Homo sapiens: one gene and its partner. The protein of the gene in region 2 purifies or fractionates together with the protein of the main gene of each other region. This does not show direct contact. Each region holds a gene or a part of one and is shown on either strand. Other genes may lie near its edges.

Evidence for each region. The genes of interacting proteins can lie anywhere in the genome.
Region 1: the proteins of TMPRSS13 (region 2) and LRIG3 purify together in Homo sapiens (affinity purification with mass spectrometry; one large-scale study listed by BioGRID and IntAct). This does not show direct contact.

The regions. Positions count from the first base shown.
Region 1 is NC_000012.12:58,910,505-58,914,004, forward strand, and holds part of LRIG3 (leucine-rich repeats and immunoglobulin-like domains protein 3 isoform 2 precursor), read right to left. Parts: coding exon 3,478-3,500; intron 1-3,477. UniProt on the Homo sapiens protein: May play a role in craniofacial and inner ear morphogenesis during embryonic development. May act within the otic vesicle epithelium to control formation of the lateral semicircular canal in the inner ear, possibly by restricting the expression of NTN1.
Region 2 is NC_000011.10:117,925,621-117,931,286, forward strand, and holds the start of TMPRSS13 (transmembrane protease serine 13), read right to left. Parts: upstream 3,783-5,666; 5' UTR 3,688-3,782; coding exon 3,667-3,687; intron 1-3,666. UniProt on the Homo sapiens protein: Serine protease. Cleaves the proform of PRSS8/prostasin to form the active protein. Cleaves the proform of HGF to form the active protein which promotes MAPK signaling.

The DNA of each region.
Region 1 (3,500 bases), on a different chromosome or scaffold from region 2:
GGCTGAGGCAAGAGAACGGCATGAACCCGGGCAGCGGAGCTTGCAGTGAGCTGAGATTGAGCCACTGCACTCCAGCCTGGGTGACACTGCGAGACTCCGTCTCAAAAAAAAACAAAAACAAAAACAAAAAAAACAAGTACCCTAGGTGCCTCTTTGACAGTCACTGACCTAACATTCTTCAACTCTAGGACACCAGGCAAGCATCTGCATGCTGGGTAACACTATATAAACCATTAGCATCAAGACTAAGACCCAACTAGCTCCGTTTAATAACCAACAAGGCTCTTTTGTTCAACTACAATGCTGTAGAACTCACAGATTCAAACTTCCCTAACCCAAGGCACAGATTTCAATCATGTCCAATGCTCGAGCAGGTCATTCCACACCACGCAAAGCCAGAGTTCATACATTCAGAAAAATCAACTCCCTCATGTAAGCCAGGTCAATAGAGTTTTACTGTAAGATATGTTCATTCCAAAGACTATTCCACTTCTTTAAAATATGTCATCCTGCAATAGCTAGGATATTGTGAGAGAAAAATTTAAAAAACATACAAATCATGCCTTGCACCTAGCACACTGGTTGACTTCTGAGCTAGTTCTGTGTGGGATTCAAAGGAAAGCATGTCTATTCAGGCCTTGTGCATGCTAAAAAGGTTAGAGATGAGCTTTGTTAGTGGGAAGATTATCGCAGATTCCTATCATCCCAGATTCCCTGATATTATGAGAATAGGTCCCTAACTGAATTTGTCTCTGGACATGCGGTACCCTTTGATCTAATTATCAGCTCCTGGCTCCTATAGCTAAGAGAAGACAAAAGTCTCACCAGGACAGTCTTCTCTGCATGCAGCCCCTCCAGCTGGGAGGGGTCTTCATGGCACAGAGTAGAAAGAGTATGGAGCAGTAATATTAAATCCTATGGTTAAGACTTCAACTAATTACTCATTTTCTTTACACACAAGCTTTCAAACTATTTAACCTGTGCAAATAACTCATAAAAATGTTTTCCTCTGCAAAATGTAAAAGATACAAACAAAAAACAACCACAAAAAACTCTTAATATGAAAGTCAAATCATTCTAAAAACTACTTTGAAAGATATGAGATTTAATTGTGACGCTACAGCAAGTTTTCAATCTGTGTCATGTTATATAACTTAACAGATTTTTTTTAATCTCAGAAAAGCATTTAAGAACTCATTTTTAGCTTTATTTTCAAGTGTTTTTATATAAAAGAAAATGTTTTACTCTACACAACACAAATTAAAAGTGCTTGAGAAACAATAATTGTATATTACAATATCCAATCAAGCCTGCAGGAGGAAACAAAACATTCGTAGATGAAAACAACCAGAGAGGTAAATTTTTCAAGATATTTCATAGGTATAAAAAGAAGTTTTTACTCTCCACATTGAATTATCAGGCCCATGATATAAATTACTCTTCGCAGAGTCTATGTAATCTAGGTAACACATTGGATGTATCATTATGTGAGACGAACAAAGCAATCACTGGCCAGAGGTATTGTAACACATTAAGGAGAAAGAAAGTGAAATTATTCAGGGTGATTTCACACCCAGCACTTGCTAAAGTGAAACACAAAAACAATATGGAGAAGAGGACAAATTTTAAAGGAGCACAAATTTCTAACTTTTGAGAGATCATTGTAGCTTTCTAATTATAAGTTATAACGTTAAAGTGTAAAACACTAGGGGCTGGGCGCAGTGGCTCACACCTGCAATCCCAACACTTTGGGAGGCCGAGGCGGGAGGATTACGAGGTCAGGAGATCGAGACCATCCTGGCTAACACGGTGAAACCCCCTCTCTACTAAAAATACAAAAAACTAGCCGGGCGTAGTGGCGGACGCCTGTAGTCCCAGCTACTTGGGAGGCTGAGGCAGGAGAATGGTGTGAACCCAGGAGGCGGAGCTTACAGTGAGCCAAGATCGTGCCACTGCACTCCAGCCTGGGCAACAGAGCAAGACTCTGTCTCAAAAAAAAAAAAGTATAAAACACTAGGTTACTTATAATTTTCTAACTTCCTCACAAGTTCTTAATGCTCTCAACGCTATACCATGCCAAAGAGTAGACTGCTTTCCCCATGCTGCCCAGATTACAAAACTGCACTGCAGATCCTCTCAGCCATGAAGTATGCCATGACCCTCAAGCTCTCTTAAACATACTGACAGAATCTGCCAATATGCAGTGCGAGGACAGCAAGAGCAAAGTGGAATTTAAAAAGGCCACCTTGGTCAAACAAGAATAGCTGCAGATGTTTACGATACCAAAACCAGCACTCCATTTAGATTCTAAAATTTTAAGCAATTGTAAAAGACAAAGAAAAAAGGTATTTATGCTAGCATAAAAATGTTTTTTAAATACAGTGTTTATTTGTCAAATACCGACTGCTTTTTCTTTCACTCCTTTCTGTTTCTGATCTTTGGAAAAACCACATCAGTATCAAATGTCACTTAGCTCTTATTCAAACAGAGGAAAGCAGACACAGCGGCTGCACCCGTGACTTAGCTGACCTGGGCCCTCAGTAAAAACAAACCTCTATAAATCACCAGATGTAAGCAATTGGGTAGTGATCACTCTATTAATTGAACAGCTTTCCTGAAATTTACTGTATAATTTCAACCCTCCCAACACCTCTCTCAGAAGCAACTAACAATGGTGGTTTTTTCCTTAAGTTGCTTAAAGAAAAACATTTTTTAACATCAGTAGCTTAAATATATTTTTAAATTATTTAAGATTAAGGTGGTAAGCTAATTAGATTTTAGAAATTAAACCACAGGCATTCTAAATGCTACCTTTAAATGCTGAAAGTCAGAATTATTCCAAAACCTACGTCAGTGCATGTATATACAACGTTACCTACACTAAAAATACAGAAAACTTGGTACAACCTTAATTGTATTTGAAAACTCATATTTGCAAAACAACCTGCAAAGTTATTTCTGTCTTCAGTCACATATTTACTTTTTTTGAGTTGATGTCTCTGAACTCTGATTTACACTGCAGGTACCACACTTAAAACAGGATACTCCAATGGCTTATTCTCAACTCCGGTTTCTCCTCACAAAGCAACTCTGATCATTCTCCACTAGGAACTACGTAATACATAACCCACAGATCCCCATGCCAACCATTGAGCGATACTAAAATTAAAGTCCTAGTCTACAGAATACGATAAAATACACATTTCTATGGTGTAAAGCTGGCCTCTTTGAATCTCGAAGACCAGTTCGGCAACAACAGCAAAGTGTAAAGTGTGTTGTTATAAGAATACATGAAATTTAGCAGTGAGAGAGTTAGAGGCTAGAAAACAAGTTAACCAATTTAAAGCGCGTATCTTTACTATGCCCTGAAAAAAATATTCCATTTTTTTCTTCTAAGATCTCTATGCTAGTCCCTATGGAACTCCCACTCAAGGTTCCTGCAAACATACATGAGGAATTCTGCTGATATTCACTTACAAGGAGAGAAGTGTAATATTTGC
Region 2 (5,666 bases):
ACCAACCCCCATCTGGTGCTGTCAAGGCCTCCACTTGACGGCTAAAGCCAGGGTTCCCTGTGGTGGCTTCCCTCATGCCTGCACCACCAGTGCCCTGCCCACTTGGCCAGGCACATCCACCCTTGTTGTTGCTATACCAAGAGGAATCTGTTCTGCCAAAACAAGACACTTAAGCTAAGTGGCCATTGTTACATCAGTTGTCCTTCCCACCCAGCTCCCCAGCCCAGGGCCCAATACACACACTCCCGCACGCTTACGCTCACATCTGCCAAGTCTCAGGGGACAATGCAGGGGAAATCGAGGTGGCTGTGCCAAAGGAAGTCTGCTCCTCACCAATGACAACATGAAACAGAGGACAAGGTGAGGGCTGCACACCTGCAGGGGCACAGGGCAGGTACCAGGGTCCTTGGAGGACGAGGTGAAGGCTGCACACCTGCAGGGGCATAGGGCAGGTGCCAGGGTCCTTGGAGGACGAGGTGAGGGATGCACACCTGCAGAGGCATAGGGCAGGTGCCAGGGTCCTTGGAGGACGAGGTGAGGGCTACACACCTGCAGGGGCATAGGGCAGGTGCCAGGGTCCTTGGAGGACGAGGTGAGGGATGCACACCTGCAGAGGCATAGGGCAGGTGCCAGGGTCCTTGGAGGACGAGGTGAGGGCTACACACCTGCAGGGGCATAGGGCAGGTGCCAGGGTCCTTGGGGTGCCTGGGGCTGGGATGGGGCTGGGACACGGCATGGCAGAGTGACTTGACCCGCGGGTGAGCCATCTCAGGAACTGCCCAGCTCCTCTGGAAAGGGTGCCTTATCCTGGACCAGCGGTGGGCCCCCAGACGGTTCTCACCAATCCCTAGCACCTGTGGCCTTGGGCTAATTTGGAACCTGTTCCACTTGAAGAAGGCCCAGTATAAGAAAATCCACTCCACAAAGGAATGTTGCTTCATCAATGGGTCTAATTCAGTCTTTCTTTAATAAGCATTGCACTGCTCTGAGAATTAAAAATGAGAATTGAAAAAGCACAAAATACGCATTGTCAAGAACAAATCTGGTGTGGCGCACCTGTCATCCCCGTTCTATGTAATTCCAGACTGTCAGGGAGCCAGAAAGGAGCCTCAGGGGGGAATGTGTCCAACCCTCTTCTTTGGTGGGGAAGCTGAGGCACAGGTAGAAGAAGATGTTTGTCCAAATTTATAGGAGCCCACCCCAAATTCTAGGCAGTGATGATAAATTTCAACATTCTCTGACTCCATCTCTATCTATCTATCTCTATCTCTCTATGCCAGATGCTATTCTAAATGAGCCTTACTATGGGAAGGACACTATTTTGAGACTCCTTGAGGTAGGTATTATTAAATTAAGCTTAGCCTAAAGCTGCCTCCTTACATATTTTAAGTTCGGATCAAAAGGTTTCTCTGTACATAATGAACTATAACTCAACTGGACGTGTAAACAGACTGTAAACTACTCTTGTTAACAATCACCAATTTTGCACAATCAAAGGCAGCCAACTGTTCAAACAGTGTTCAAATAAGGCTATTTCTGTACCTCACTTCCTTTTTCCATACACTGCTTGCCTTTTTCTGTCCATAAATCCTCTCCGACCACGCAGCTGTGTGGGAATCTCTCTGAATCTATTCTCCTTCGGGGGACTGCTCCATTTGAGAATTGTTCTTTGCTCAATTAAACTCTGTTAAATTTAGTTTGTCCAACATTCTTCTTTTGAGAGTAGTATTATTATTCCATTTTACAGATGAAGAAACTAAGGTACAGAAAGGTGAAGTGGCTTGCCCAAAGCTGACGGGGAACATGGTCAGTTCTCTGTCCACCACGACATGCAACTTTCTTTTGAATATGAGAAACTGAGACCCTTCTCCACCTCTTTTCCAAGATCCCTCTGAAGATCCAGCAGCTGACAGAGGAGTGCCATCAGGCTCAAGCCCACTGGCCACCATCTTCCTCACGACATTTTGGAGTTGAGGGACAGAAATCACAATGCATCTCTCTGCAATAAAGCCCTCAAGGAGAAGGCACAAGCTCAGGTGACCAGCTTCTCCCAGACCACTCCTATTTAATCAAGGTTAAGAAACCTGCTGCAGATGGGAATACGAGCCCCAACTATAGGCTCACTCTCTCAGAGTTCCATCTTAAATAGGGGAGTGAAGTTAAGAACCTTAAATAAGAATGTAATGATTCCATTCTTCCATTCCAAGGTAAGTTTGGACAATCTTTTTTTCAGAATGAATATGGCACCTATCATAATATTTGACACTTAATTCATAGATTAATTGGGAGTTCCTCAAAGAAGTCTGTTCTCTGTCCTGTATCCCTCCAGCAGCCTTCATGTTGATCCCTGACTCTGAAGAGATGAGCTTCCTGGGAAGATATCGCCCCATCACCCTGTCTCAGGGATGGACTATCCATCTCCAGTGGGAGCATGGCCACCCTCCGGATAGCTCAGCCCTTCTCACTCTTGGGTTTAGGGACCATCTAGTTTAGGCTCCCAGCATATTGCCAAGGAGGATGCCCCATGGCTGTGACTAAGGGTTCACCTTCTGCATGCCCTTGTGTACCCCCCTTACTGCTCAACAGTAAGAGGCTCTGATAACCCCCCAAGGCCTAGGGCCAAGTGACTTTGGTGAGGTAGAGACATGAACGAAGGAGCCCAGAGCAGAGGGCAAGGGAGGCAGCCTGGGAAAGAAAAGTCAAGAGGGGGCTGGAAGAATGGTGGGAAAAAAATGATGGTAAAGTTTGCAGAAACACATTGGGGGTGCAGAATGGACCACAAGCCAACTATAAGCCAAAACATAGGATGAGCTGATCTTTCCCAAACCCAGTGCTAGCCCATTCTTCCCAGAGTCCCAGGCTCTACCATGTCGGTAAGGTACAGAGAATTTGGAGGGGGCAGAAAACAAGACCTAAAGGAGAAATGAGAGCACAAAAGGGATTTCCTGGAGGAAAAGAAAGTGGAGGCACAGCAGAACAAGATCTTTGGAAGCCTTCATGTGTGTATGACTGGCTTTCCCACAGAGGACAGGCCAGCTGCTTTCTCCTACCCCAAGAGCAGCAGAAGAAAGGAAGTTGAGTGGTAGCAGGACTTGTGGTTAAACATCAAGAAGCACTTCCCAAGCATGAAAGTTATTAAGTCCAAAAAGAAGTGACCAACGGAGGTTGAAACATCCCCTTGAAAATCTTGAATGCACCCAGAAAGTCACAGTTTTCTGGGAAGGTTTAGGAGTGTAGTGAGGGGTTTAGACAAGATGCCCCTGAATTGCAGTTAGAATGCTTTTGATTTTCCAACCAGCAAAAATGAGATTAAAGTAGATTAGCCTGGATTCCCAATCGGCAAAGTTGGTGCTGTAACACTATGGATGCCCGGCAGGAGTGCTCACAGACCACAGAGCAGGAAACCCACGACTCAGCCACATAGCCCTGGGGTGCTCACCAGCCAGACCCCAAATCCCAGCAGCTTCTCCTCCCAGGGGCTTTTTCTAGAACCACGTTAAAAGGAGACCAAGAGATCTTGATCGTAAGTAGCTTCAAACTAGAAGAGGCACAGCCAGTTTCCCCCAAACCTGAAACACAGAGGTAGCTGTCCCACCTGTCTCCCAGCCTCAGCCCTGCTTCCTCAGCGCTGGGAGAATCTGGCCCGAGGCCTGAGGTCACACTCACCCCGTGGCTGTCCCTCTCCATGGTCTCTGAGGGGAAGAGTCCTCCAGGCTTAGCTGATGTCGAGGAGAAGATCCATCTTGGTCCCTGGCTTCTCAGGCATGTAGGGTAAAGGAGTTGGAGGGCCAAGGGCCAGCCCCCACCAAATGGGGCGGGGAAGCCGGTTGGGACGTGTGAAGTAATCCCCAGTATAAACAACACAGAACTAGCCAGACCTGTTCCTCTGCCCCTCATCGAGGCCATCCCAGTTACTCAGCGAATACCAAATTCCAAATACCGGGAACCTGAAGCTGCCTTTACTCATGAAACTGCCCCCACAGAAGCAGAGGAGTGTTCTGAGCTACTTCTTCAGAGGGGCCCTGAGAGAAAGGGCAGAGCCTTGAGAGGATGGTCTTGGTCCTGTTGACCTGAGCCCCTGAAACAGATGCTCCAGAGCCTTCTGAGGGATGACCCTATCCCCACAGGGGACGTTCCAGGCCAGGGGCAGAGCCCCACCTATGGCAGGACAGTGGGAACCTTCATCTCCAAGGACCAGGTGTCCAAATCCCAAATCAGGGCACATGGTCTCTGGGCGCATGGTCTGGCAATTGCTTTCTCCTGAACTCTGTTTGTTTTTATGAAACTCTTAACAAAGAAATGAAAATCAAATGACCTTTAATTATGCACATCATGAATTGCCCTCTATTGAAAACAATAAAGTGCCAGAAGCAACACATCAAAGTCAATGAAATAAAACATAACTATCTGAATGGAAACTGTTCCAAGAAACATTGGGCTGACTCGTGATCCCAAACCTATACCCTATTCTGATCCTCAGAGTCAAAAGAAGTAAAGGAAGGGCTATTGCAAAAGGAGTCCTTAGCACCTCCGGCTAAGTTCCAGCTGAGCTGCTGCTGAGAACTGCAAAAAAAAAAAAAAGAAAAAGGAGTTCCTGTTGAGGTTTGGGAAGAACTTTCTTGAGCATTCAGAGGCACCAAGATTTTTAGAGTTTGAAAGAAGCTCATGGATCTTTAGTGGTTCACTCTTTTCATTTTACAGACTGCGAGACAGAGGGCCAGAGAGGCTAAGGAATGTGCTCAAGTCACACAGCAAACAACAGCAGCAGCAATAATCTTAAGATGCCAAGAATCCTGCGAAACACTTCACACGCATCCTTCACGTGTTCATTCAACAAATATGTATTGAGTGCCTGGCATTGCTTTAGGTGCTGGGGACACAGGAACAAAATAGGCAAAGCCTCCTGCCCTGTGGCTCTAGTATTTGCGGGTTGGGGGGAAAAAGCAGACAAAAATCAATAAATCAGTTACACAGCCTCCTAGAAAGTGAAAAGTGCCGTTCACAAAAACAAAGCAGCGAAAGGATCCAGAAGGTAGGGGAGGCAGAGTCCTGGCAGTTGGGAACAGGATGGTCAGAGAGGGCTCTCTGTGGTGACATATTTGAGCAAAAACTGAAAGGAAGTGACTACTATCGCCCCCCATTTACATTCAAGAAAACGGAAACTTCTAGCTCACAGTGGAAACTGTGCCCCAGCTTAGGGTGTCTTGAGGGAAATCTAACCCAGAGGCAAGAGGCTGGAGGAGAGAACTCTGGAGGGCCCAGGCAGGGACCCTAGAGTTCTCTCATCTTGGCTTATTGTGGGAGCCACTTCCCTGGCTTTCAAAGAGAGCAGAATTCAGCCACAGGCCACATCCCCTTCCTGCCCCATCCACCAGCCCACCATGACAAAGGGGCCCCTCCCATCCATCCTCCTGAGAAGATACCCACCTCCTGTCCTCAGCTGCTCCTCTTCCCTCTCTCCCAGGGAGGAGCCCAGCCCCTCTCTGGCTGCCACTGAGCCCTGGCACGCCCAGGCCAGATCCGAGGGCCTCCACTTCATCCCCCAGGCAGGCCACTGGTCTCCGAAGGGCACCCTCAGCCTCCTTCCCTGAAGGTCCCACCAACCTAGGGAAAGAGCTCAGGCTTGGGGGTCTGGGCGAGTTCGGGGGAATGAGAACCCTAACTCT